7 separate regions of the Homo sapiens genome follow, and all the other regions are linked to region 1. The links come from fine-mapping of genetic effects on gene expression. A gene starts in region 1. Each other region holds a variant in brackets. All regions are shown on one strand. Distances are from middle to middle.

Region 1 (4,064 bases):
TTATTGACTTGGGTGAGAGGGTCTCGAGGTAGAACTGGAGAAAGGAACAATGAAACGCTTTTTGAATAGAGGGCTGTTAGTAAAAGACAACTGTGGAAGTTAAGAGCGTGTGCTTTGGCTTCGGACAGATCTAGGACCAAAGCCCAGCCTTCTGCTTATTGCCTGCTACTTGGGTGCGTTACTTACACTCTTTAATCACTAGTTTGCCCCTCTGTAAAGTGGGGATAATGACAGTGTAACTGAGGTGGTCCGTGTGAAAAGCAGAATGATGTACCCGGTGCTGGGTAAGTACTCCAAAGCCGAATTGGCTGTCTGGTCGCCCAGCCTGGGGACCTGCAACAGGTAAGGGTGGAAGGGAGGGGAGGAGGAAGGCCTCTCTAGTAGAGAATTGCAGAGTCTCTCCAGAGGTTCCTCACATTACTTCCTTCCCCAGTTGCTCCAGCCCGTCACCAGCATGGCCCTCCATCCGGGGCTGCCCTGGCTGGACAGGTACAGTTGGGAAAGGAAGGCCTCATGTGTGGGAGCCTTGAGGTTGGCTTTGAGGGTGGGAGGATTTGCCCAGGTAAGGAAGATCAAGGAAGGCTTGCCAGAAGGGAGGCTGGGAACAGAGCAGGTGGGAGTGGGAAAGGTGCCTCCAGGGAGAGGGAAGAGGCCTGGCTGGAGCAGAAGTCTCTGGGAGGTGATGGGAAGGACACCTAGAGAGGCAGGGCAGGGAGCCCAGCTGTAAAAATTTCTGCCAATAAGCAGGCAGGAGCCTTCTGTTAACAGAGGGTCTCTAGTCTGCTCCAGACCTAGAGGCATCATCCCATCTGATGGATGGAGAAACTGAGCTCAGGGAGGCTGAGCCAGTGCTATCAGAGGTGGTGGTGCCATTGGGAGGTGAGGTGCAGCCTGGCTCACTCTATGGCCTACAAAGTTCAAGGGGATTTTTACACTATTAATTGTCTTCAGCTGCAAGTAACAAAAAACCTGACTGGGGCGCCTTACAGATTAAAGATTAGCTCAAATCCAAGGTTTCTGGAGGTGAGGGCCTTCTGGGGGCAGTCCCATTGCTCTGCAATCCTCCCCAAAGTGTTTCCTCTTGGGTGGCTATTTCAGAGCCTGGGTGTGCCCCCTCTCTCTAAACCCTGGGCATGCATAATGGGCACTTGGGAGCTCAACTATTTCATCTGCAGCAGCTCTCATCTTATCACCCCGTCAGCTGTAAGGCAGACATCAGTGAGGGTGGTGATTTGCGGACAATCCCTGACTCACCCCATTTTGCCAGCCTGCCCTGGGCTCAGGACTTCCTGCTGCATCTTCTGCTGAGCCGGCAGGGCGTGGCGTCTCAGGGCTGGGGCTGGGGCTCTAGTCCAGGGCTCTTCCTAAGGTGGTACCACACAGTGCCCCCAGCACCTGCCCACCAAACTGGAAATTCCAGAAATATTCTCGACACCGTCTACTTTCCAAAGACTGGGTGTGGCAGATGAGGAAGCTGAGGCTCAGCGAGTTGGGGGGTCTATTAAGGTCCCTCAGCCCCTGAAAGGTGGGGTCAAAATTAAACAAAAACTGGGCCTCAGACTGGGTTTCCAAACACCCCACTCTGTGCCTTGATAATCCTGTTTCTCTCTCCATCCATTCCCATTCACTGAGCCGGAAGCCTCCATCTTCAGAAGGGGGTTCTCTGCCCCAAACAGCGTCTAATCTGGAGACTTGCGGTGGTGGCGGTGGTGGTGGTGGGGGCAGTGCCGGGGCCTCAGGCTGTTCTCCCTCATCTTGCTGCCTGCTCACCTTGCCTCTGTGTGCTCACAGCCCCCCAGAGCACAGCTGTGTCTGCTCCCAGACTATGGGCTCCTTGAGGGCAGGACCTGGTTTGGGTCCCAGAGCAGCCAGGGTTTGATGAATGACAGATGCCCTAGACCTGGGTAAGCCCCTCCAGAATGACTTGCTAGTGCGGGGTGGGGAGTCTGGCATCTCTGGGCCCAGCCTGGAAGGGTGCTGGACTGGCTGGCGGGTGACACACCTGGGGTTCCTGGGCCCCTCCTGGCCACACTGTCAGTGGGCCTCAAGCTCCCTTAGCATATGGCCTCTGGAATAAAGTGAGCCCGCACCTCGGGAGGGGGCAAGCAGAGGCAGGAGCAGGATGGCAGGTGGCAGGCGGGGCTGCACAGGGGAGCACAGCAACTCCACTTCCTGTGGGCGAGGGCCCTGTGCCTGCCCCGGGGGAGGTTGCACAAACCTTCCTGCGCAGGCCTCGGGCTGCCTGCCTGCCTGCCTGCCTGGCCCGGCCCGAGCTCCAGCCTGCCTCTTCCACTGGCCACTGCCTCCCACCCAGGGCTGGCATCCCTGCTCCCTGCCCTGGGTCCCAGACTGTGTCCTCCATCACCGCAGGGTCGGTGAGGGGCTGGGCTGGACACCAGGGCCCGCCCTCCCATCACTGAGCTCCACTCCTTCCTCATTTTGCTGCTGATTCTAGCCCCAAACAAAACAGGTTGAGCTTTTTCCTCCCCTCAGAAGCTCCTCTCTGGCTCGTGGCTGCCTTCTGAGTGTTGCAGACGGCGCCGGCCGGGAAGGGGGGCCTGGGCCAGCCCTGCCAGGACTGGGACGCTGCTGCTGGCGCCTGGCCCTCCATCAGGCCAGCCTGTGGCAGGAGAGTGAGCTTTGCCGCGGCAGACGCCTGAGGATGATGCCCCAGCTGCAGTTCAAAGATGCCTTTTGGGTGAGTGAGGATGGTTGGGGGCACTGAACAAGTGGAGGGGGCAGAGCTAGGCTGAAATCTCCATGCAGGTGATGGGATGCGGCTCCGAGAGGGGAGCTTTCTCATAAAATAGTGGTTGATTCTTGGTCTTAATTGTCATGGAGGTGGCCCAGGCCCCCACCCCTTCTGGACTGGAACGCAAGTGGACTCCGTGAATGAGCGTCCTCCTCTCTGCTGCCCCGTGTGTTTTCTCCTCTGGGAGACCTCTCCCCACAGCAGGAGCTCCTCAGAAGAGGGTAACACATGGGTGGGGGCTTGAGGAGGATGTGTGGGGCAGCAAAGGAGGGGTCACAGATTTAGAGACCAGACAAACTTGAGTTCAGGTCTTGGCTCTGTTACAGGCTGGGCAAGTCATTTCTGTCTCCAAGCCTCAGTCTCTCCATCTATATAATGGTGATAAAATAGAAATCAACACACCAACTAAAGCATTGGATCAGCAAGGGGATCCAAGGCACTAAAGCCCCCAGCACCTTGCCTCACTCCAAATGGTAATTCTGTTCCCCTCACCCAGCCCCTTGTCCCTTGCAGACCTTAGGGGTCCTTCAAGGAGGCAGCCAGGTGGGCAATGGCTTGCTTACTTTCTTAAATTCAACACGGGCTTAAATCAAGTCATTTCCCCCATGAAATAAGGGCGCCCAGCCAGTGGTAGAGGTAAAGTGGCTTGGCCCGGGCCACGTAGCCTGCAGCCCAGCTTGGACCCCTGGTCATCTCAGCACTTTTCCAGCTGTCCTTCAACTACCCCTCTGCCCCTCAGCTCTGGCTGTGCCCAGGGCTCTGGGGAAAAACTGAGACCTCTCTGGTTGGAGCTGGGGAATGTGGCTGTCCCGGGGTGCTGCCTCCAACCCCGAAGAGGACGCTCTGGCCCTCGGCTCAGCCGGCTGAGCCCCAGCCAACAGCCCTGCCCTCCCCGGGCCTTTTCCTGGGGCTGCAGCCAGGAGGATGAGAGCTATGGAGCCAGGCCTTCCTTCCCTTCCGGCCGGCTCCACTTGGGGCCTGTGGCCAGCGTGTGAGTGTTCTGCTTCCTCTGCTCTGACTGTACAGTAGGCAAAGGACCCCACGTGGGGAGGGCACCTTGTGCCTTTCTGGGCCTCAGTTTCCCCATCTCTACAAAGACAGGGTGGGCCCAGCCCAGAGAAGCCAATGGAGGCAGAGCTGCCTCAGCCCATCCGGAGGACCAGGCACCAGGATGCTCAGGGCCCAGGCTGGCAGCTGGAGCCCTGGGGGATGGGGGATGTGAGTCACCACCTAGCTGCCCTGCCTTGGTGTGCAAAGTTGGGGGAAGGGGTAGGGCCTGGAAACCCAGGCCACTCTGTAGCCCAGGGCAGGC
Region 2 (4,064 bases), 35 kb after region 1:
GCCGCGGCCTTCCCTCGAGGAGCAGCGCAGGTCTCAGGGTGCGATCCTGGGCTGTGGCCCCGGGCAGGGCATTTGGAACAGGCTGACCTCAGCCTTGGTCCTCGGACCTCGGCCTTGGGCGCACCAGCCTGCGGGGCGCTTGGGCCCGTGCTGGGCGCTATGGCCCCGTGGGGATGGTCCCGGGCCCTTCCCTTGTGGGGCTCGTGAATGAAGGGCAGATGAAGTCAGCTGGGGACTCCAGGGGTGGAGGGAGGAGGGACCCCTGAGCTTGATCCTGCGAGACGCTGGACAGGAAGGGAGAGGGGCTCCTAAGAGGGCGCGGCGTGGCGAGGGGCGTGGCGAGGGGCGTGCCCTCGCCGAAGAGCACAGCCCAGGAGGCGGGGCCCGGGGCAGGCCGCGCTGTCCTCAGTGGGGAGGGCCTGAGAGCAGGACTACCAGCAGCCCCCACGCCTTCTCTATCTCCTTCCGGACCCCCAGATCCCTGTCCCTGGTGAGGATGCCCCCACTCCACCCGCAACCCTCGCCAGGGAAAAAGGGAGGCTGGGCTAAGGGAGCCTCACTCCCGGGGACCACAGAACAGGGCTGTGCAGCCCCCAAGTCACGCCCCTCCACACCCCCAGTCCAAGAAGACATACGAGCAGAAGTGCCGGGACGCGGACGACGCGGAGCAGGCCTTCGAGCGCATTAGCGCCAACGGCCACCAGAAGCAGGTGGAGAAGGTGCGCTGGGCTGCTGGGCCGTGTGGGTCGCCCAGGGCTGGGGGCAGTGGGGGAGGCAAGGAAGGGGTGCCGTAGACACCCCCAGGCAAGATCTGCATCTGGGGATGCTGCTTAGCCCTCTCTGACCCCCAATCTCCCCATCTGTGAAATGGGTTTCCTGGAGAGAACCTCAGGCCATGGACAGGCAGGTCAGCTGGATCCCCTTTGCCACCGTCAGGCGGCACTCAGGGACCCATTCCTCGGTGCAGGCCCACTGAGGCCCACAGGGTGATGAGAGCAGACGCCAACCCTCACACAACCTTGGAGAAGGGCTCAGTAGGCCCATGTCACAGAGAGGAAACTGAGGCTCACAGTAAGTGACTTGTCTAAGGTCTCAGAGCCAGGAAGCAGCAGAAAAGGGACCCCCAACTCAGGTGGTCTAGAGCCCATGCTCCTGATGCTGTGGCCCCTAGGCCAGAGTGGGGGTATCAGAGCTCCCAGAGCCCAGGAAACACATCACTCATTGCACAGACAGGAAGGCTGAGGCCCAGAGAGGGAAGTGGCCTGAGGGTGAGCTGGGGGCAGTCAGTCAGGGGCCAGAGCCCAAGTCCCAGCCAGGGGGCTCAGCAGTAGTTGCACCTCTCCTGTGGGTTGTGGTCTCACTCTTCACAGGCATCCTCCTGGGCTCGGTTCCTGTCTTCGTTCTCTTTCCATGGAGCTAGCCTGTGGTCCTCTGTGGGCGGAGGTTGCTTGTGGATGATGGCATCTGCCCATAGTTGGCTCCTGAATGTTCCCCCCAGGGTGGCCGGGGAAGCTTGACAGTCACTTCAGGTCTGCTGGGGTGGGCCCTGGCTCCTGGGGCAGGGGCTTAGCGCTGCTTCCCCTCTGTTTCCTCAGAGTCAGAACAAAGCCAGGCAGTGCAAGGACTCGGCCACCGAGGCAGGTATGTGGGCCTGGCTGCCCCGTCCGACCAGGGCGGAGGCCTGGGCGGTACTCCCCACACACACCTCCTCACCCTGGGGACACACACACTCCCCCTGGCTGCACAATCATGGG[C/T]GCGGCGCTCTCATTCCAGATATGTGCCGTCAAAGTAAACGCTGTGTTCCCCCATTCGCCAGCCCTTCTTGGCGCTTCATGTGTTCAGTCCTCACAGCTGCCCTCCGAGGTGGCTGCTGTTACTGTTCCCTTTCTTAACAGATGAGGAAACAGAGGCACTAAAAGGTCCAGTACTTGCCCCAGGTTACAGCTGCATTTGAACCCAGGCCATCGGGCTTCAGAGCCCAGGACTTGTGCACATAGCCTTCTCTGGGCCTCTGTCCTTCACTTGATGCCCGAATCCTACCAACACTCTTGTCCCTGCTGGTGCCCCACCCACCAGACACAGCACCCACCCTCCTCCCTTCCCCTGGGAAGGCCTCTCCCTTCTGCTCTGCCTTTACTGGGACTCAGCTACTCCCTCGGCTGGGGGACAGGTGACCTCCAGAGATCTGGGCACAGAAGTTGTGACCCAAGCCTGTGGGACTCCACCCCTCCTCCAGCGCCCTCTCAGCTGCCTTCTCTGAACCTCAGTTTCCCCTCTGGAAAGTGAGGTGGGGCGCCCAGAGATGCCCAGAGGCCAATACTCTGGACTTGCATATATGAGGCTCCACTCCAGCCCTCAGGCAGCTCAGAGCACAGTTGGGGAGCAGCAGCAGCACCAGCGTGGGTGGCCCTGACGGGCATTCAGATGAGGCCCCGCCATCTGCTAGGGCAGGTCCCATGGGGGAGGCGGGGCTCCCAGTGGGAGGAGGCATCCAGGATGGGACCTGCTGGAGTACAGGGGTGGAGGAGCTCGTGTCAGGGCCCTCCCTGAGGCTGCCTGCGCTTTCAGAGCGGGTATACAGGCAGAGCATTGCGCAGCTGGAGAAGGTCCGGGCTGAGTGGGAGCAGGAGCACCGGACCACCTGTGAGGTGAGTGGCCCACGTGGAGCCTCGTTTTCCCCAGCTGGGAAGTGTGAGACGCCCATCCCTACTCCAGCTGCTTAAAGGGGCCCAAGTGAGGCAGTTGGGGAAGGTACCTGTTACTCACTCGTTTATTCAGCCTCCTGCTCACAGGCCTGTGCTGGGCCCTGGCCCTGTTGCTTGTCGCCTGGCCTTGAGTCCTGGGCCCCTTCGTTGCAGGCAGGCATTCTTCCACCCTCTTTGTTGAAGCCAAAACTGGGACTTGGACTAAACCCACAGCCTCTCTGGGTGCTGCCGATGGACAGGGCCTGGGGAACAGGGCTCAGGACTCCCGTCCGAGGTCCCTCTCACTACCCTTCTGCCTCGGTGTGGTGCAGCCTGAAGGGAGGCTGGGGCAGGGACCCCCTGGGCATCTCCACCTCCCTCCCTGCAGCCTCAGGGCTGGCCCGGAGTCGGGATGGGGACCCCAGGGCACTCTCTCCTTTGGACTGGGCTTCCAGCAGAGAGGGCTGGCCTGGTCAGCTCCGGCTGAGCTGTGAATGGGGCCCAGCCTGGCCGGGCCCTGCAGCCGCCTCCTCACTGCTCACCTCCCTCCCACTGCCCCCAGGCCTTTCAGCTGCAAGAGTTTGACCGGCTGACCATTCTCCGCAACGCCCTGTGGGTGCACAGCAACCAGCTCTCCATGCAGTGTGTCAAGGATGATGAGGTGGGGGCTGAGGGCCTTGGTGTGGGGTAAGGTAGGGCAGCCTCTAGGCAGCAAAGCACCCAGGTCCATCTGAGCCGGTCAACAAGCACCTGGTCCTCTGTGATCCAAGCCTGGCCCCAGGGGTCTCAGGCCTCAGCAGCTCAGCCTTTGCCCCCAGAACCCCAAGACAGGAGCTCAGTACCACACAGGGCCATGGCTTCTCTGCCTGGAAGATGATGACTCTGTGGTTCCCCTGACTTCCTCCTTATGCCTCAGAGCCACAGAGCACCTGCCCCCTCTGCCGGGGATGGGAGGGGAGGTGGACACAGCTGTCAGAGGTTGGCAGAAGCTGGAGGACCGTGGCTGCTCTGCTCTAGGCCTGGTGCTTGCAGGAGCCGAGGCGCAGTCCTTCCTCTGCTCCCCACATCTCCAGGGTGTCCTGGTTCCCCTTACTGAGCCCAACCTGCTGGGTGGGTCCTCCCCAGCAGAGAGGGCCCCCAGCCAGGGTCCCTGAGCTCTGTGGATGGATGCAGCCCAGCACACGGCTCTCCCGGGCAGCCCTGGCCCCCTTGCCTGCTGTGTTTCCTGCCTGACGCTCCTGTCCGGGGCTGTGGGGGTTGATTTTCTTGTTGTTTTTGCCCAAGTGACTCGAGCCCCCTGCTGCCTCCTCGCCTCCTTGAGGTAGAAGGGCGAGCTCTGGACCCACTCTCCTAGCCCCAAGGCCTGGCTGTGCTGCATTC
Region 3 (4,064 bases), 25 kb after region 1:
AGGGTGTGCTTGCGCATGCTCTGACCTGGACTGAAGTCACCCTCCATGCCCACCTCCCTGGATCTCCGTGAGGGGGGGTTTCCTGAGCCCACAGAGAGCCCAGCGCAGCATCTGGCACATGGCTGGTGCCCAAGAAACCGCAATTGCTGTGATGGTCATGGAGACTGCACAGTGCTGAGGTGAAGGGCAGGGACCCCAGCCAGACAGCCTGGGGTTCAAGGCCAGGCCAGCCACTTTCCAGCTGGGCCGCTCTGGATACGATCACATGTCACCCTCCTACACCTCGGTTTCCCCACTTAGCTGAGATAGGGATATTGGAAGGGTGGCACTGTGAGTGAGTGAATTTCAGGCCTGGCTGTCATCAGGGGGACTTAAGGGTGGCTCTTCCCATCTGCTATCTCATGCTGATGTGTGTCCTGTCCTGTGAGCTCTCCAGATGCCAGGCCCGGCACCCCCGGCCCTGTCAGCTGGGTGGGGCTCACTTATGTACCTGTCACCTCTGCAGATGTGAGGGGACCTCCTGTGTGCCTGTGTAAAGCCAGGTCTGGAGTCCCAAGAGCTTGCCCTGAGCAGGGGAGATGGAGGCAGGAGGGAGGCTGTTCCCAGAGATGGTGGGAGGGTCCCCACAGGGCTGTGCTCAGTGTCGCCTGGTCGTGGCCCTCATGTGTCCTTCTGTCCTGTGTCACAGTGCAGGGACTTCACAGCCCACACGGGCTACGAGGTGCTGCTGCAGCGGCTTCTGGATGGCAGGAAGATGTGCAAAGACATGGAGGAGCTACTGAGGCAGAGGTGAGCTGCTGGGCAGGCCATGGGGAGCGCAGGCAGGAAGCAGGTGGCTTCCGCTCGGCTCCTGGGACAGTGGACGAGGCCCCCATCCCAGCCAAACTCTGTCAGAACACGCCCTGCTTTAAAAAACTCTTCTGTGTTCCCTCAAACCTGGGCCTCCCCCAGAGGTGGCAAGTCACTGATGATCTTTCAAATGCCCTTTTTTTTGCAGGGCCCAGGCGGAGGAGCGGTACGGGAAGGAGCTGGTGCAGATCGCACGGAAGGCAGGTGGCCAGACGGAGATCAAGTAAGATCTCCCGGGCCCTGGGGCTCACTCCTCTCCTCTGCTGGCAGTTTCTGGGCCTTTAGATGAGGTTTAGGTCTTCCTGGCATGGGGGAGGCTGGGCAGAACCAGGGTAGGTCTGGATTGCTCCTTGGTGCCTGGTTATTGGGCATTCAGGGTGAGGCCAGGTTCTGTGAGGGAGGAAGCCCGAGGGTCTGAGTTCTGGAAAGGGTCTGGGCAGGGGAGACAGGAGGCCATCCATCCTCAGTCATTTGCAGCGCAGTCTGCACCAGCCTGGGTGGCCTCCACTGAAGTCCTGAGGGGCAGGTGACAGGCGTCTCCACTGGTGGCTCAAGTCCCCTGCAGCACTGGCTCAGCATGGGCTTCAAGGATGGAGATGTAGCCAGAGACAGGGGTCCAGGAGGGGACACACCTGGGTTCCGGTGTCAGCTCCTCACCCCCCAGCTGTCTGACCATGGGCTGGCTGCTGACACACTCTGTGGCTCCGTTTCCTCATCAGTGATGGGAAAGTAACGCAGCCCTCCTCAAAGGAAGAAGTGGGCCCATGGGCTTAGCTGAGGCCTGGTTAGAGGGCAGGCCGTCAGGGAAGTGGCTCTGATGAAGCGGGAGTCTCCAGCCCCACAGGTCTCTGCACGCAGACTGCTGGGGTGGGAGGCCAGGTGAGGAGATGAAGGTGAGTTCAGGACACAGCCACCCTAACAGTGGAGTGGAGGGGCTGCTCTGGGAAGGCCCAGACTGTCCCCCTGGGTGAGGACAGAGCCAGGCCAAG[G/A]GGCAGACAGACCACCGGCCTCCAACTTCTTGAAAGGGCTCTGCAGAGTCCTCCTGCCGAGGGGCCCTGAGCCTGACCCTGCAGCTGCTGTGGAACCCCTTCCCTTCCTGCCTTCTCCCCCGAGAGAGGAACTGAATGTGCCATACTCTGAAGGTCCCCCAAAGACACCAGGCACCCTGGCGGCTCCTGCTTCCAACCAGGAGCCAGAGATCACAGGAAGGCTTAGATGTGGCATGAGCCGTGTGTGAGGCCAGAAAGTTGCACACAGCCCTGGGAGGACGGAGGGCTCTGAGGAGCCCTTGGAGCTCTGGTCCCGGCTCGGCCAATCTGAGCTGTGGGACTGTGGGCCAGTCGCCTAGCCTCTCCAAGTTTGTTTCTCACCTCCCACTCCAGCGAGCTGCCGTGCAAATCAACAAGAACATGGTCTGAGGGCCTCCCAAGGGAAGGGCTGAGGGCCGGGTGCAGGCTGGGCACAGAGGAGGGCTCAGGACATGGTGAGGAGTGAATGGACGTATGCAGGGAGGTGTTTTCTGCAGGAAGCAGTGCCCAGAGCTCTCAGCCAGGGGAGGAGCAGCTGTGGGGGCCTGGCAGCATGACCAGGGGAGCCCCTCCTGGTCTCCTGGCCTCCCAGCCTCCAGGCCAGCTGGAAGAGAACTTTCCCAGAAAGAGAGGGTACCTCATGGGGAGAACTCAGAGACTCAGGAGAGGTGGAGAGGGTGGCCCCAGCAGGGCACAATGGGAGCCAGGCTGGAGTGGGTCTGTGTGATGCAGGCTCAGGGGATTGTGAGTCACAGGGGATTTACAGCAGGGAAAGAGAAGCTACCCACAGAAAATACAATGGGGGTGGGGAGCAGGGTGGGCCTCAGGAAGCAGGAGGTACGCAACATCTTGCTCCATTTGTAGAACTAGGAAGGGGCCAGGTGGAGGCTCTGGGCGGCCCTGATTGCGCCATGGTTATTCAAGGCCAGGTGGGGCAGGGTCTGCCCTGACTTATCCTTTGTGTGGCCCTGGATGGTCCTCCCTGTCTCTGAGTCCAGGGTCTGTACCTATGGAAGGGGATGGTCACTTGGAGAGGTGTTCTGGGCAGTCACAAGGACAAGCAGAGAGTGCCAAGCCACAGGGGTTCACTGCACACAGTGGGGCTCCATAGTGTTGCTCTTGACCCATGTGGCATGAAGTACTGTTGATGAGGCCATGCAGCTGTTCCTTTCGGTGTAGGCCAAGCATCCATCCTCCATCCATTTAGTCACCATTTAATTGAGGACCTACTATGTGCCATGCCCTGGATGGGTCAGGAGGATTCACTAATTTAAAATAAAATAAAGGGCTTTGCCATTCCTTAGCCAGAGTCCAGCACAGTGAGGGTGACTTCCTTCTCCTTCCTAGTCCTTTGCATTAGGGCCCATTTATGCGCCACCTCCTCCAGGAAGCCCTCCCAGACACCTTGCCTTGCCTTACTGTCAGAGTCTTGGCTTAGACCCAATTACCCCTCCCCATGCCAACCTGAAGGGCTTTTGGTGGGGAAGTGTGAGCAGTGGCCGTGGACCTGTTTCCTCATCTTAGACTCCTGTGGGGGGGGGGGGTGTGTGTGTTGGCCCTCAGGAAAGGTGACCCGGCTCTTCAACATCGGGGCTGGTGGCCCACCCTCCAGGGCCCATCCCTGAGTAGGGGAAGCCCCTGGCCTCCCTGAGGCCCACAGCTGCCCCCCAGGTCTATGGGATGCTCATTCCCTGCCCCTTGCAGAACGGGCAGGGGACTGGGGGATGGGAAGGCTAGGAACAGGGTGCAGAACGAGGACAAAAGCCAGGTGGTTAAGTGACCCTATAAATAGCCTAGTGAGCCCTGAGGGCAGAACTGCTGCCTGAAGGTACTGCATTTCTGCAGTCCCCTGACCTCAAACCAGCCGGGAGCCACCCTCAGGCCTGGAGGCTCGGGCCACTGAAATTAACAGGAGGTTACATCTTAAGTGATTTTTGACATGTACCTCCTTCACATGTTAACTCAGCAAACATCCGTGGGGCAGTGGCAATGGAGGATGGACAAGTAAGACCCAGTCCCCAAACTCCAGGGATCCCCACCAGCGCTTTCAGTGCATTTTAAAGACAGCATTAGGGCCAGGCGCCGTGCCTCACGCCTATAATCCCATCACTTTGGGAGGCTGACCTGAGGTCAGGAGTTCGAGACCAGCCTGGCCAACATGGTGAAACCCCGTCTCTATCAACAATA
Region 4 (4,064 bases), 540 kb after region 1:
GCAGTTGGGCTCAGGAAGGTTAAGACACTTCTCTAGGGTCACACAGCGAGTAAACAGATGAGGAGACCCTCAGCCCCTGAACTCACTGGCTCGGGCCTCACCCGAAGGGTTCTCAGTGTCCACCTACCCACTCTGCACATCGTGCCCGGTGTGGGCCTCACCTGTGGTGGCCTTCTCTGGGCCGTGGCTTGCCCTGCACTCATGGGCACAGAAAGCTTCTCCCCTCTGGAGATGACCGGGGCTTTGGCCTCGGTTGCTGTGTGGCCATGGACAAGCCCTTGGGCCTGCCTTTCCTCAGGTCAGGAGTCTGGGAGGGGTGTGGAGAGTAGCGGGTGGTTATGGCTGGGCTTCAGGGCTCTTTATTCAATTCGAAATAAACCTAGCTGTAGGCTTCCATGGTGGCTTCATAGGCCTCCCCAGGCCTTTTGTTTGCCTGCTAATGGTTTCTAGTGCCCCTGCAGGGCCTGGCAGGTTCAAAGCTCACTCAGACTAGCAGCTAGCAGACTCCTAGGCTGGGGAAGGCTATGGACCTTCCTCCTTCACCCAGCCTGGCCCAGTCTCCCTGGGGACACACCACAAGCATGAGGTGGGGTAGGGGCAGCATGGGGTGGCACAGGGTGAGGGTAGGAGAGGTGGAGGAAGAAGACTCCTCCCAGGGGAGGTGAGAGGGCTGGATGCCCCCACTCCCACTCTGCTTCTGGTTGTGATGAGCCCCATGTGACTCCATCATTTGTGAGACCTTCAGATTTGCCCAGGAAGGCCCATCTGCCCATGGGCAATTTTAATGCCAAGGCATGATCTGTTCCTCTCTCTCCACCTTTCCCCCATCATCGCCTCCCACTCTTCTCCCATTCCTCTGCTCCAGCCACACCAGGCTCCCTGCTGTCCACAAGCACCCCAGGCCCACTGCTACCTCAGGCCCTTCGCACAGGCGGCTCCTCTGCTGACAGACTCCTCCCATTGGGTCCACATGGCTGGCTCATTTCCCCAGCTCCTTCAAGTCTCTGCTTGATGTTCATCCTTTTTTTTTCTTTTTTTTTCTGAGATGGAGTCTCACTCTGTCGCCCAGGCTGGAGTGCAGTGGTGCGATCTCGGCTCACTGCAACCTCTGCCACCCGGGTTCAAGCAATTCTCCTGCCTCAGCCTCCCTAGTAGCTGAGATTACAGGCGCATGCCACCACGCCTGGCTAATGTTTGTATTTTTAGTAGAGATGGGGTTTCACCATGTTGGACAGGCTGGTCTCAAACTCCTGACCGCGTGATCCACCCCCCTTGGCCTCCCAAGGCAAGGAGGGTGGAATGTGCTGGAATTACAGGCATGTGCTGCTGCACCCAGCCTGATGTTCATCTTCTCACCAGACCTGCCCTGAACATTCGACTTTAAACCGCCTCCGCCTGGCCCTCCCCATGTCCTGACCCTGCTCTGTTGCATTCCACAGATGTATTGCCTTCTGGCACTTTGTAATTAACTTACTTATGTTGTTTCTCCTTCTCCTGCATTAGAATATAAACTCTAGGAGGGCAGGCATTGTTGTTTGCTTTGATAACATTGAAACCCTCCCCAGTACTTAGCACAGTGCCCAAACACAGTGTAGGTCCCTGAGAAACACCTGCGGAATGAGTGAGCAGATGAGTGGATGGGTTTCAGTACATCTTAAAGCAAAGTATCTGTAACATTTGTCTCTTTAGGGACCAGAGAATGGGGCGTTGGAAGACCTAGGTTGGAGCCTCACCTCTGCCCTATCTTCGCTGTGTGACCTTGAGCAGGTCACTCTAACTCTTGCCGCCTCAGCTTCCTAACAGCGCCCCTGCCCGGCCTCTCTTGCAGGCCCACAGAATGAAAAGAGAGGAGTTCCAGGAAAGGGTTTGGCAGATGGCATCCCTGCAGGACTGCCTCGCGGCGCTCTGCCCCATCCAGCCCCTACGTACTGGCCATGTGACCTCAATGTTTGATGGACTCACTTGGCCTCTCTGAGGCTCGCTTTCTCCATCTCTAAAATGGAGGATGAAGCAGGTTCAGCCCCACGGGCAGGCAGCACTATGCCAGGGACATGGCGAGCCCTCTGGAAAAGTTCACCTGATCCAGACGTTGCTGGGTCAACGGGAAGGAATGACTTTCACTCCTCTGCTTCAAACCACCAGACTGTCCTTGGCCCTCCCTAATGAAGGAGCAGAGAACAGCAGAGTGGGCAGGGACCTTGGAGGTCAGCAGGGTGGCTGCTCAGCCCAGAGGCAACCGGGAGCTCGTCCCAGGGTGTGACAATTCAGTCAGCCCTTTACTGAACACTCGGCTTTAAACCGCCTCATGCCTGGCATGAGGAAGGCACCGTGCTGGAGGGTTTCACCACGGTTCTCTGTGTGTCTCCGGGGAGCTCACTGTCCTGTCTGAGGCCCGTCCGGGGTCCGGACAGTGGAGCTTTCAGGTTCGTGCGCACCCTCTGCCTGCCTCTTCTCCCTGTCAGTAAGGACGTGGGTGTGGCTGGGAGGCAGATCCTGGGTGGAGAAC[G/T]GAGCTCCTGGTTCTGAACAGTTTGAGGGTCTGGAAGTCCTTTAAGAAGATGGTGAAAACTATGGACCTTCTCCCCAAAGAGAAGCACACATCCACATCCAGAGGCAAAAACCCCATCGCTCAGAACCCCGTGGATGAGGCAGTCATTATCCAGTGGTGCTGTCACTATGGCTGGGGCTGGCCTTGATCTCTGTTGCTGGATTCCACATGTTCATTCTCTCTGGCCACATTATCAGATCTCTAGCTCCAACATCCTGTGTGATACCAGGATGGCCATTGCCATGATCTTGTCCACGGGTCCACTTTCAGCAGCTGGGCCCTGGAGGGCAGCACACAGCTCATGATTGGGTTGGAGATGGGGGAGTCAGGGGCAGATGGTGGGAGCTGTCCCCAGCCCTGCCTCTCTTAGGACCCTCCTGGGACTCAGGTACATAGGGTCCCTGAGAAAGACCCAGTTTGATGAGACAGGCAGGAGGAATAAGGAAGAGTGTAGTTTAAGAAAGTTTTCTCCAGCTCTGGTTCATGCATCCGTCCTGAAAGAAGGCAGGGAAAGGATTATTCACCCATTTCACAGATGAAGAAATTGAGGCTTGGAGAGGTCACGGAGCACACAGAGCAAAGAAGTCAAAACCAGGATTTGAATCTACTCTGATTACCTCCAGAGCCCATGTCTTGTCCCAATGGATGGAAAATTCTTAACTATTTAACTCAATATTGAGCAGCTACTGTCTACAGAATTCTGTGCCAGACAGCTTGGGAGACACAGACCTACAGGGAGATATAGTTCCCACTGGAAGCACCCAGGGCAGTAATAATTATCATCATAACAAAGGAATAATAATAGCTAACATTTTGGAGCACTTACTAGGGACCAGCATTATGCTACACAGTTTTCATGGATTATCTCATTTAAGCTCTCAAATATTTTGGGGTGTAAATAACAGTATGCCCACAATTTTTGTTTGTTGTTGGTGTTCAGAAGTGTATATCCGTTTTTGAGAATGGAGGCTCAGCGAGATTAGGAGCCTTGCTCTCAACGAGGGAGGAATTCTGGCTGCGACTCTGTCCCTTACTACCTGGGCATCACCTCTGTCAAACCTGGACAGGTGCCACTTAGACCTGGCTGAGGTTGGCTGAGGCGGGGAGGATGGGGAGGTTGTGGGTAGGCAGCACCTATTCATACCCACAGTCCAGGGACTGTTCCAGAAGAATAGTATTCCCTGTGCCCTTGCCGCCTCTGAGCCTTGGTGTCCCAGCCTTTCGATCCTCTCACTTCTGATGTCCTTGAGCCATAATCTGAGCCATTCTCTAGGATAAGGAGATGCTTGAGGTTGAGTGAAAGGTTGACATTTCTGCAGGAGCAAAGAATGACTTGATGCAGGAGAGAAAGGCTGTGGGGGGAAAGTGAGTGAGGCAAATCCCCAAGGCAGAGCAGAGCCTTCCAAAGGGTGCAGGGGAGAGTCTTGGTGGAGGGGGCCAGCCTTGCTCAGCAGCCCCAACCTCAACAAGGACCCCTACCCAAGAAGGCCTGCAAAATAGCAAATCAATGAAGACAGCA
Region 5 (4,064 bases), 20 kb before region 1:
CATTATGTTATAAAAATCTCACTTGGTTTCCTACTTTTCTCATTAAACACTTTGATTTTAAGATATATCCATTATATCCATAATGCGTGTACTTGCAGTGCAGCAACCCCACTTTCCTTATCTACTCCCGGGCCGGCGGACTCTCCCGCCGCCCCTCGCTCCCTCCTCATAGGCACAGGAACAGAATTTCTGAGTCATAAGACTGATACAGACGTTTCAGTCTGGAAAACTGCAAGCACGGCAGATGCCAAAACCCCTTTCCTGTGCCTGAAAGAGAACTTCTGGAGGTATGAAGGGCAATAATGCCTCCCATCCTCCCTGTGGCTCCAGAATTAACTCTCGAAACAACAGGATTTGGGGTAGGAAGGTTACAGCTAAGGAGCCGCCAGTCCCCACCCATCTGCTCTGGGAGAAGTTATCTCGAGGTCCAGTTAAGCGGTCCAGCAACTCCGAAGGACTCGCTGGAAAGTCCTGCACACCAAGCTTGCCCCTTCTGCATAGCTCGGGGTAGGGAGCAGCCACCTCTTGTCTCAAGACTGAGGAGGCCTGGGGCAGGGCGGGGCAGGCAGAAGACTTGAGCAGGGACACCCTGGGATGAGGTGGTGCCTCCTTGATCGCTGCACCTGCCCCTGCACCTGGGGTGGGTCTGAGGGGAACAGCATCACTAACTGCTGGACTGAAGCCACCATAGGAAGCTCAGGCTTCTTGGGCTAAATAAAATTCAGAAATGTCCAGACTGGCTGTGACACCAGGCTCTTCAAGCAGCCCTGACACAGGGGGTCTAGGGGGCTTTTGCTGACTTCTGCTGCTCCACCTTCCTGGGCTCTAGGAGGCGCTGTTCCTCCAGCATCCAAGAATCAGCCTGAACCAACGGCAGCTGCCAGGCGACAGCTCAGAGCCCAGTGGGGGTGGTAAAGACCATTCAGATAAAGGCTTGGGGAAGAACAATGGAAATTGTTCCCGGCAGCACCCAAACCTGGAAAACTCTTTTGGGGCAGAGCTTGGGTGTCTCCTGCCTTGATCTCAGTGCCATCTTTCTCCCCTGGCTCCAGAAGTTTCTTCTATTCTTCCAGATTTTCCAAATGCAGACCAAGAGGGATTGAGCTCTCCTCTACCCTGCCTGGCCCAGAAGTTCCATTTCCTACCTCCTTCTAGCAGGGGAGCAGGGGCCTTCCTTGGTGGCCCCCAGGATGGCCCTATCTCAGAAAGACACAACCACGACTTCTCTGTATAATAGACACCACCACACAGTAAGTAGTGGGAGGATGGGGTGGGGAGGGACTTTTATTTGTCCTTTAGGCCCTTAACCCATGGCATGACTCTGATGGTTAAGGACAGCCTGGGACAAGTCCAGTGAGATTAGGGTAGGAGAGTGGGGAGGTGAGTAAGACCCCATGGGGGTGTGAGTGCCTCTGAGGCAACCTAGAGTGGAGGTGGAGGGGGTGGCAGACCCTTAGGAAATAAGCATGACCCCTGGCTGGGTAAGGGCACCCACTATGAGGGTAACAGTCACTCGTTCATCCCACAACCATTTTTGATATCTGTAGGTGTCAGGTACCATGCTAGTTGAAGGATATAATTGTGAACAAGTGATGTGTGGGTCTTAGTGTCGAAGAGCTGACATTGGAGGATATCAGAGACAAAAATCAAGTAAGCAAATACAGCATTGTTAACTGCAGTAAGAACGAGGAGGACAGACACAGGCCCACAAGGAGGTCCGGGTGGCTCCTGGCATCAGGGCCATATGTAGCTC[A/G]GCTTGGGGTTCAGGGTCCTAACTCCAGCTCTGGCAGGCTGGAGGAAGAGTCCCACATCCAGATGAAGTGGCACTTATGGGTCTGAAAGATATAAGCCCGGGTCTAGGGGCTGAGTGGTCCTGTATGCCAGGGGGCATGCCAGGAGCTTCACCATGTTAATGTGCTTCATCCAGAGAGGAAGCTGACCACCAGCAATGCTTGTGAGACTGGCTGCTGGCTGCCTTCTTATTCTCCTCTTGGGTCAGGGCTGACCCTCTGATGGGGTGGGGCTGAGGCTGGCCAGCAGGGAGGCCAAGCTGTTGGATCAGAGGAAGGCGATGTCAGACACCAGCCCCTGTCACCCACCAGCTCTTCCCTTCCCATTGTCCCTGGCTGGCCCTGGCCCAGCCTCTCCAGCATCCTCATTTGCCTCCCTGCCTCCGGCTCACCCTGCCCACATATCCACCAGGGGCTGCCGTTGTTTCTCTGATTAGTTACTGTGTTGCTGCCAAATTAATGCTTCTAAACCATATTTTATAACAGCAGCCTTCATCTGCAGAGAATCTTTGAAAATACTTGGCTTGGCATTTAAAGTGGTACAAAAATGTGGCCTTACTGAATTTTTACAGCTTTATTTATCCTTTCAGAGGTGCATCCTGCACGTATGTCAAACTGTGGGTCCTCATCCCTCTGCCACACCTCTGCTCAGTTATCTTTCTCTCCTTCAACCCCCCTCCCTGCCACCCTCCTGCATCCCTCTGGGTAGTGAAACAGCCCCTTATTCAGTCAGCCAGCCTTGCATTCAGCAGGCTCTGCAGGCTCCCACTCTGTGCCCGCCATTCCTGGGCAGCACTAGGACCCCCCCTGCTCTGACACCTCATCCACTTGTTTTGTAATCTTATTAATCTTCATTTATTAACTCCTGAATGAGACCTTATCCTTCTGCTCCTCTGAACTGTAACCCTTCAATGGCAGAGGCTGCATCTTGCCCATTCCTTGGCCTCATGGTTCCCTGCCTGTGGCAGGGGTCAATAAATGTGCTACATGACCTGGACTAACATGGGCTCTGGAAGGAAAGCACTAAATACTGGCCTGGGGGCTGGAACTCAGTCTCAGCTCTGCCACTTAACTGCTGGATAGTCTCTGGAACATTACTGTCTTTTTCTGAGCCCCAGGATCCCCAGCTATAACATGCGGCTGCCATCCGTGTCTTGGTTACCTTACTAGGCTAAGGTGGGAGACTGCAGGTGCGGGCTGTTATTATAAGGGTTTTCCCTGAGGGTGGGGTGTGTACTGGGGCAGGGGGAGATATTGTGTTTCTTGGTGCCTCTTGGCCATAAGACCTGAGCAAAGCCAGCATGAAGCCCCTCCACAACCCTCAGATGGCAACCCAGGGGGTTAAGGCGGGGGGGATGTGAGGCAATGGCCAGCAACCCCATACACACCTGTTTAGGTGAGTTGCAGATAAGGTGCTCTTATGCTCCCAGGGCTTTCTGCCAGCATTGAGGAGAAACAGGAGCTCTTCTCCAGCCAGGTGAACATGGCCTCGCTTGGCAAGCTTGCAGTCCTACATTCCGGTAGGTTACAGGCTGCTTCCAGTAACGCAGGGAAGCTGGGGAAGGATGAGTTGGGACATTTTATTATGGTGGACTATCTGAGTGGAAATGGATAGCTGAGCCCTCTGAGGACCCGCAGCCTCATTACCCAGAGGGGAAACCAAGGTTCACGCAGGAGAAGGGGCTTGTCCAAGGTCACTTTTGCAGTCTTGTCTCTAAGAATATGGATTTTGGAGACAGGGAGATTTGAATTCTGCCACTTACTAGCTATAAGAGCTTGAGCAAATTTCAAGCCCTGAGGCTTAGTTTCTGCAAATGTTAATGAGGAATCACAATTCTGATATTTTATTGCTATGAAGATTAGAGGAAATGATAGATGAAGAGCTTGCTCCTGAGTGGCTGTTCAGGCCTCCAGCCCCAAGTCCCTAGGCATAGGATGATGGGGGAACTGCTGAGAAGGGCCTTCTTGTTTCTCAGGCAACAAAACTGCCAAAGGCTTTAGGAGAGAATCCTAGTGGGGTTTGGGTTGGGGGAACTCTGATTTCAAGGAAGTGAGTGGCTTGGGATCTGGTCCAGCCTTCCCGTCCTTTCCTTTCATTCATCTGCTCATTCATTCCACAGATGTGGATTAAGCATCCACTCAGGGACAGATTCTGTCCTGGATGCTGCTCTATCAAAGAGAACTAAAACCCAACTGCTCCCCACCCTAAATGCTCACAGTCCAGTGGAGAAAGAGAGAGAGAGACAAGGCAAAGAGACACTGTCAGAGTGAAAT
Region 6 (4,064 bases), 380 kb after region 1:
CACATGCCTGTGGTCCCAGCTGCTCAGGAGGCTGAGGTGGGAGGATTGCTTAAGCCAGAAAGGTGGAGTCTGCAGTGGGCAGTGATTGAGCCACTGCATTCCAGCCTGGGGAACAGAGTGAGACTCTGTCTCAAAAAATAAAGTAAAACACAATTACAGATAAACATAGACAAGGTATGGGAAAAATACAATGTTATATATACTCTTTTTTTTTTTTTTGAGATGGAGTCTCACTCTGTTGCCCAGGCTGGAGTACAATGGCACGATCTCAGCTCACTGCAACCTCCAGCTCACTGCAACCTCCACCTCCCAGGTTCAAGCGATTCTCCTGCCTCAGCCTTCCAAGTAGCTGGGACTACAGGTGTGCACCATCACATCCGGCTAATTTTTGTATTTTTAGTAGAGATGGGGTTTTACCATGTTGGCCAGGCTAGTCTCAAGCTCTTGACCTCAGGTGATCCGCCCACTTTGGCCTCCCAAAGTGCTGGGATTACAGGCGTGAGCCACCATGCCAGGCCAACAATGTTATACTCTTATGTGGTCCTCGTTGACCAAAACTTTGTCATTCCATGCATAACTGTATTTACAACTCTTACCTGGTTAGTGCCTGGAATAACTTCCTGAATCTCATCTACTGTATCACCTGCTGATTCAAAAATCACCTTAGAGCCCAACTCCTTTACTTCACCTAATAAAACTTACTGAGCTTGGACATGTAAAAACCACATGTGGTATATTTTCTTCCAGTGCAACAACGCCTATGAGACTGGGCAAGTTGAGACCAAGAGTGATCTCTCCTCTTCATACAAAACAACTAGCCTATCATTTGAATATGCTATTATTTTACACATGAGTTTAAAAAGAAAACTATGCCTGACTATCACATTTCCTAAAACTGTAAGTTTCTAAGGACTGCACTGACTCTGTATAACAATATTATATATATATATATATATACATAATCCCATAAAAATAAAGCAAGCAAGCATTTTGTAATTCTTATTTCACCTGTAAAAAGGCCAACCACATGACAATTTTACGAAGCATCTCATTTCTTTAGTAAACTATTGAAAGATCATCTCTCTCTCTTTGACATACATGGGCAGTGGAAGTCATAAGCAAAAGCAAAATGAAATGATCGTCAAAAATTCGTGCTTCTTACAGAGTACGGAATTCAATAGTCTAACTGCCAGGAATCTTGCTACTTCACGGTATTATTTACATATTACAAATTATATTTAATTAGAGTTTGTTATTTGTTCCATTTTAAAGGTATTGGAAAATAAAATATTTCCCTTTGCTGACATACTAACACACTCTTTACTATATACTAAAACTTTATAACATTTTATGTCTTAGTGGTTTTTGGAAGGTCAATACCATTGCATACTTATATGCTGAAATAAATCCTTTTAAAAATCACATTGTCAATTCTCTTTGGCTTCAGAAAATAGACATGTCAAAAACTCAACTGGAAAGCAAATAAATCACAATACCTTTGAAGTGTTATTAAATAATCCTGAAGACGAAATCTGAGTCAAACTACAAAAAGGCCCTCAATCTCTGCTACCAAGAATTGTGTTGGATTCATTCATATATCATTTATAGAAAAGAAGTAATCACCATGTCTTTAGCCAAGCACAAACATGTTTGTTGAGATGGACTGTGTAAGTCCGAGGATTTTGCTCGCCACCCCTATATTTCCTTGGTCTACAAGAAACAACTGTAGTTCAGCTGAGACTGTCTTTAACTGGTTTGTTTTTAAAGAGCTATATCTGCTGAAATGAGATTGCCTAAAAGCACTGCAATCCTCTCCAGTGGGATTACAAGTTATATTGGTAATAAATGTGTTCACTTAGGTAACAAGAAAGAAGAAAAAGGCAACCTACAAATAGTGCTGAAAATCTGAAGTTATACATTTTCTCCAATGAAATAAAAGTAGTTGAATACCATATATTTCAAATAGAAACTCAAAAATCTGGGGATGTCCACAGCAAGACCTTCCCATAAGGAGCAAAATTATCTAGCAGTCCTTCTAAGAGGAACCTGAATTAGCATTCTCTATTGAACTAAAAAGTCGTAAGAGAAT[G/C]TGAGTCACTTTTGAAGAGCTCATTGAAGAATAAAATGAGACTTTAAGTCTTTAAAGAAACTATCTAGAAATATATACAAATCCTAAGTTGAATACAATGTAACAAAAATAACACTTATCAAACACCCTCATACTTACAATTCTATACCCTCTGGGAAGAACGGTATACATGGAGGGAAGCCATTTTCTAGCTGGACATACTAGGCTAGGGTTCCCGAAATCCAATATATAGAGATTCAGGGGTTTGCTGCAAATATTCTAGAAGTGTATATCTAGAGTAAGAACTGTTCACTGCCAACCCAAGGGCCCATCCAACATAGAATACACCAATAGGGACCCTTAAGAGGATTGGTTAGGTCCAGGACCTTCATAAGAGATCTAATTAGCTTTAGAAAACGGGCCAGAAACTCTTGTAACAGGAAACTTTTCCGTTTACAGCAGGACTTGCCTACAAGATACCAAGACTAAATGCTGTTTCACTAGAATGGGACTTATTTCAACCAATCATATACAGATCTATGAATTCATGCCATCCTATCCAAAATGCTGGTTTTCAATACTTAATTTGGATAACTACTCCAAACCTACCCTAACCACTGCTCTTTTCTAGTACTAAAATCCAGACTTTTCTTCCTCAACAATTACTCACTGAATTTCTTTACTATATTTCTTTACCTGGCAAATGTAAAATCCTTACTATATTTCCTTACCTGGCAAATAAATAAACTCAGCTTTGTTTTATCTTGTTTTTTTAGCTCCATTGGTCTTTGTTATATTCTTTGACATATTGATTTTCAAGAATATTTTCATTCCTTTTCTTCCACCAAAAGCAAATCAATACTGGCCTGGGAGCTAGAATCGGTCAATAGCATGACCTGCCCTGGTAATCAATAATACACGCTGGTTATGTAATAATACAGGCCGATGGTTAGGTCATGCCACTGGCGTACCTGAAAATCTGCCAGATAATTAGAATCACCCTTTCAGCAAAAACAGCAACTCTCTGAGTACTCTGGTGGTACTGATCAGTGCAGTTTTGGAAGGCTGGACATAACTGATCTTTAAAGGCAAGATCCCTTTTTATTCCTCTTTCTGCTTATTATGTACGTGGTCCACTGTCAAAGAGATATGAGAAAATCAGTTTTTTGAATTTTTTGAGACAGGTTCTTACTCTGCTACCCAGCCTAGAATGCAATGGCACGATCACAGCTCACTGCAGCCTCGACCTCCCAGGCTCAAGTGATCCTCCCACCTCAGCCTCCCAAGTAGCTGGGACCACAGGCATGCAACACTATGCCCAGTTAATTTTTGTACTTAGTGTAGAGATGGGGTTTCACTGTGTTGCCCAGGCTGGTTTCAAACTCCTGGGCTCAAGTGATCCATCCACCTCAGCCTCCCAAATTGCAGGGACTACAGAAGTGAGCCACCATGACTGGCCAAAAATCAGTTATTATGCAACAACTATTTGCTTGACAAGCATCCCCCTCTCTCCCAAATGGCAGAGTAAGTGTTGCTGGAAACCCTGGTATGCCACTTTCATCAACCCAAAACTATCTACATTTAATACACAATCTTTTAGGAGGGACTTATTTGTCAGGTAATTTCAGAGTGAAGCATAACTGCCAGGTAAAATAAGTTTTATTTAGACAATATGAGCTAATAATATGATTTGCCTTATTAGGTCAGCCTTGGCTCCCCAGCACTTCCCAAACCCTGCTCTCCCTCTTCACAGAGAATATCCCAGAGGCTCTGTGGAACCCAAACAGCAAAATGCTACTATGGAGTTTTAAATAATGGAGTAACATGCTAAAAATCATGTTTTAAGATTAATAACCTAAAAAGCTAATCTAGGACTACAGTTGGGAGACAATGGAAGCAAGGAAACCAACTCAACATGACATAATTGATCCTTAAAGAATACAGCAATGGCCAGATGCAGTGATGTGTACTTGTAGTTCAAGTTACGTGGGAGACT
Region 7 (4,064 bases), 93 kb after region 1:
TGGTGAAACCCTCTCTCTACAAAAAATACAAAAATTAGCCAGGTGTGGTGGTGCATGCCTGTGGTCCCAGCTATGTGGGAAGCTGAGGTAGGAGGATCGCTTGAGCCTGACCGTCAAGGCTGTGGTGAGCCATGATAGCACCACTGCACTCCAGTCTGGACAACAGAGAGAGTGCCTGTCTCAAAAAAAAAAAAAAAAGAAAAGAAGAAAAAAAAAATCACTGCTTATAGTGAGTGCTTGAGTGTTACAGCAGTTCTACAAGCAACAAGTACTTTTGTGTGTGAAGATAGATGTTTTATGCACTCCAGTATATGGAATCACATCTTGGTGCAACTGATGGATCTTGTCCTGATAAGGTCTGGCAGTTCCGGATGAAATGGCACATGAAATTGCCACCAACACAGCAAGACAGCCTGAAGAAACAAGTGTTCCTGTGACAAAACTCCTACATGTGCTCATCAATAAGTACAGTGTATGTGACATAAGAGTAATTTTATTACACAATTATGTAGCTCAAAGCAATGTAGTAGCAATTTAAGAATGCATCTGAATTGCTCTCCTTAACGAGCACCATCAATTCAGAGTATTTAAGATTGGTCCGCAACACAAGAAAACTTGAAAACCCTGAAATCTTACAGCTCATTTATAAAAGAAATTTGATAAAGGTTTCCCTCAACTTGACAACAATCCTAAAAATGTACACGACTTTACCAGTAAGTCATGAAGCCAAAATAGATTTTTGTAAACTATCACTAATAAAATAACAAATTAGTCAACCATACCACGGCAAGCAGTGAATTATCTTTCCATTCTCTTAATAGAAAATGGCAGCACGAAAGTACTGTCATATGAAAAAGCAGCCAAAAGATATGTAGCAAAAATGAAGGGAAAAAAGATATTATAAATGTTTATTAAGCACTGAATAAAAAATATACTGCTATTGGGGGGATTTTATAATATTTGTAGTGTCAACTTTTCTGATTTGTAGGTTGTTTTATTTTCTCATTTCAAGTAACTATTCATGTCTGTACCTAATAGTGTCTTTTTTTATTATTTTTTTTATTTTTTTAGACAGGATCTCACTCTGTCGCCCAGGCTGGAGTGCAGTGATGTGATCTCAGCTCACTGCAACCTCGGTCTCCCAGGGTTCAAGCACGATTCTTGTGCCTCAGGCTCCCAAGTAGCTGGGATTACAGGCATGCACCACCACGCCCAGCTAATTTTTGTATTTTTAGTAGTGACAGGGTTTCACCATGTTGACCAGGTTGGTCTCAAACTCCTGGCCTCAAATGATCCACCTGCCCGACCTCCCAAAGTGCTGGGATTAGAGGCGTTTGAGCCACCGTGCCCAGCTGTTAATTTTGTCTTTATGATTTTTATTATTTTCCTTAAGGAAGGCCTCCAAATTGTACAAAGTTAGGGACCACAAAACTTGCATCTGCTGTGGCCTGAGGGGCTGCAGTGATTCACACTCCACAAGAGACCCTTCCAATACCCCAGGCCCTCCTGCTCTCTCCTTTGGCTCCAGTGGGTGAGACACCCCCATCTCTTACCAGAGTGCACTGCAGCTGGCACTGCCATGGATCTGAGCCATGCCCAGCCCCAGGCCCCTGCACAGGGGACAGCAGCAGGCACCTCCCCGGAGGAATGAGCCTGGCCTTGGGAGGTCCCACCCTCCTGCACACTTCTGCAACCAGGCTTCCTAACACTGGCCTCGCTGCTCTCACACCTTCTCTGGCTGCTCAGCTCCTCCAAGACAAAACAGTTGGGCATTTAAGGCCTTTCTGGGTCTGGTTTTATTTTACATTGAAAATAGTTTTTTTTGTTTTTTTTGGTTTTGTTTTTTGGAGACACAGTTTTGCTCTTGTTGCCTAGGCTGGAGTGCAATGGTGTGACCTCAGCTCACTGCAACCTCTGCCTCCCGAGTTCCAGCGATTCTCCTGCCTCAGCCTTTCGAGTAGCTGGGATTACAGGTGCATGCCACCATGCCCGGCTAATTTTTGTATTTTTAGTAGAGATGGG[G/T]TTTCTTCATGTTGGCCAGGCTGGTCTCAAACTCCTGACCTCAGGTGATCCACCCGGCTCAGCCTCCCAGAATGCTGGGATTACAGGTGTGAGCTACCGTGCCTGGCCCAAAATAGGTTTTAAAAATTAGATTTTCTTTCAGAATAAATCTGATAAACAAGAAAGCAATCTTGTATCTGGCCACCACAGTAAATTCTTGACTTTTAAAAATATTGACACATAGTAATTGTACATATTTGTGGGGTACAGTGTGATGTTTCCATACACGCACACATTGTGTGATGACCAAATCAGGGTAGTTAGCATATCCATCACCTCCAACATTTATTATTATTTTTTTGCACCACAGTAAATTCCTTAATGATTTCTATTTTTTTTTTCCTGTTGATTGGGAAGACAAACATGTTATCTGCAAATAGCCATGTGGTCTATTCTTTACCAACATTTAGACTTCTGGATCAGTCAGAGGTTTGGTTCGCAAACAGCAGAAATCAACTCTACTTAAACTAACATGGGAAGGCTACTGGGAGAATCAAACTCTCGGCAGGCAAAATAACCAAGGTTTTATTACAGTTCTGCCTTCTTTCTGTGACTTAGCACTCCTCCCTCAGAAGGTGCAGCCTAACATCTGAAAATATCTTCACTTCTTTTCTCAGTTACTGATATAGCTTGCATTGCATGTTCCCTCCAAATCTCATGTCGAATGTAATTCCCAGTGCTGGAGGTGGGGCCTGGTGGGAGGTGTTTGGATCAGGGGGCAGATCCCCCATGGCTTGGTGCTGTCCTCGAGACAGTGAGTTCTTGGGAGATCTGGTTGTTGGTTCTTGCCATGTGAGATGCTTGTTCCCCCTTTGCTTCCACCATGAGCAAAAGCTCCCTGAGGCCTCCCCAGAAGCAGACGTCAGTGTTATGCTTCTTGTACAGCTTGCAGAACCACGAGCCAATTAAACCTCTTTTCTTTATAAATTTCCCACTCTCAGGTATTTCTTTGTAGCAGTGCAAGAACAGCCTAATAATGGTTATTCTGTACAACTCCAAGTCCAGTAGTTCTGGGTGAGATCCATTCCTTCTCTAATTCTGTCCCACTCCTGTCTCAATATTCTGCAACAATGTATACAATAGTGGATTAAAGGGAAAGACAAAATACATTTATTAAAATATATAAATATACCCATGGCACAGCAAGGAAGAACATACAGGCTCTGTATGGTTGTGGTTAGGATGTGTGACCTCCCTCCTCATTTATTCCATGTTTCCTGTGTCCTCCACCCACACCTTGGGTGGCAGGCATTCTTTACTGGTAGGGTGACCTAGACCATTATTCCCAAGGGGGCTAAGCCCTGGTGCCCTTGCCTAAATAGGTTTGTTGTACCTTCTTCCATGTTGACCACTGTATGAGGATGAGCATTGTAGGAGGATGAGCAGACAGGACAGAGGGATCCTGGAGGTCAACCTCACTTCTTCATGCCCCCATCGCAGTGACCTCCCCATTACCTTTGATAGTCTAAATCAATGCTGTCCAATAGAACTTTCTGCAGGGATGGAAATGTTCCATAGCTGCTCTGGCTAATATGGTAGCCAGGAGCCACATGCGGATACAGATCACTTGAAAGGTGTCTAGTGTGTCTAAGGAACTGAACTTCTGATTTTGTTTAATTCAAGATAATTTAAATATAATAGCCACGTGTGGCTAGTGGCCACAGTATTGGGCAGCACGGGTCTAAATCAGTCATTGAAGCCAAAGCCTTGACCTCTCTTTGGGCCTGTTTGTCCAGTACCATGGAGAGCCCGTAGTGGTGGGCTGTCAGTATTAACTTCCTGTTTAGGCAGCCATTGTGTTTTACTCACATTGAAGCTTTACTCCTTTGGATATCAAAACCTGTAAACCAACAAGCGCAGAGCTGTGGGAACAAGAAGCGCATTTATTGAAAAGGTGTTATTAGTGAAGGGCACCATTCCCACATCCATGCTTTGGTGCCAAGATTGCTGTGATCAGTATAAATTGGTTGCTGGTTGTGCTCACATACCAAACGCTGGTGGAC

What was found. PIP is the estimated chance that this variant, and not a neighbour inherited with it, causes the effect.
Region 2: its variant is fine-mapped to the expression of PSTPIP1 in tibial nerve (GTEx, PIP above 0.99). The same link has a PIP of 0.9 or more in whole blood.
Region 3: its variant is fine-mapped to the expression of PSTPIP1 in whole blood (TOPMed, PIP above 0.99).
Region 4: its variant is fine-mapped to the expression of PSTPIP1 in whole blood (TOPMed, PIP above 0.99).
Region 5: its variant is fine-mapped to the expression of PSTPIP1 in whole blood (TOPMed, PIP above 0.99).
Region 6: its variant is fine-mapped to the expression of PSTPIP1 in whole blood (INTERVAL, PIP above 0.99).
Region 7: its variant is fine-mapped to the expression of PSTPIP1 in whole blood (TOPMed, PIP above 0.99).

The regions. Positions count from the first base shown.
Region 1 is chr15:76,992,912-76,996,975 of GRCh38, forward strand. PSTPIP1 (proline-serine-threonine phosphatase interacting protein 1) reads left to right here and starts at 2,215. Exons shown (of 15, transcript NM_003978.5): 1 at 2,215-2,698. The coding sequence starts at 2,663. RefSeq lists an enhancer at 1,920-1,969 and a silencer at 2,210-2,399.
Region 2 is chr15:77,027,934-77,031,997 of GRCh38, forward strand. It overlaps PSTPIP1 (proline-serine-threonine phosphatase interacting protein 1), which reads left to right. Exons shown (of 15, transcript NM_003978.5): 7 at 621-719; 8 at 1,596-1,641; 9 at 2,569-2,648; 10 at 3,247-3,345. Among named protein-coding and RNA genes, the nearest start is that of PSTPIP1, 35 kb to the left of the region's middle. The variant C/T (reference allele first, on the strand shown) is at 1,755.
Region 3 is chr15:77,017,460-77,021,523 of GRCh38, forward strand. It overlaps PSTPIP1 (proline-serine-threonine phosphatase interacting protein 1), which reads left to right. Exons shown (of 15, transcript NM_003978.5): 2 at 689-789; 3 at 998-1,072. Among named protein-coding and RNA genes, the nearest start is that of PSTPIP1, 24 kb to the left of the region's middle. RefSeq lists enhancers at 1,640-2,212, 2,402-2,531. The variant G/A (reference allele first, on the strand shown) is at 1,839.
Region 4 is chr15:77,529,414-77,533,477 of GRCh38, forward strand. LOC101929457 (a long non-coding RNA gene) reads left to right here. Exons shown (of 2, transcript NR_135692.1): 2 at 1,690-4,064. Among named protein-coding and RNA genes, the nearest start is that of LINGO1, 100 kb to the right of the region's middle. RefSeq lists enhancers at 1-103, 104-945, 946-1,789. The variant G/T (reference allele first, on the strand shown) is at 2,507.
Region 5 is chr15:76,972,682-76,976,745 of GRCh38, forward strand. It overlaps LOC105370904 (a long non-coding RNA gene), which reads left to right and starts at 223. Exons shown (of 3, transcript XR_932492.2): 1 at 223-287; 2 at 1,074-1,250. The variant A/G (reference allele first, on the strand shown) is at 1,754.
Region 6 is chr15:77,377,252-77,381,315 of GRCh38, forward strand. The region is part of intron 1 of PEAK1 (pseudopodium enriched atypical kinase 1); the gene reads right to left. Among named protein-coding and RNA genes, the nearest start is that of PEAK1, 41 kb to the right of the region's middle. The variant G/C (reference allele first, on the strand shown) is at 2,090.
Region 7 is chr15:77,085,812-77,089,875 of GRCh38, forward strand. No RefSeq gene overlaps it. Among named protein-coding and RNA genes, the nearest start is that of TSPAN3, 17 kb to the left of the region's middle. The variant G/T (reference allele first, on the strand shown) is at 2,023.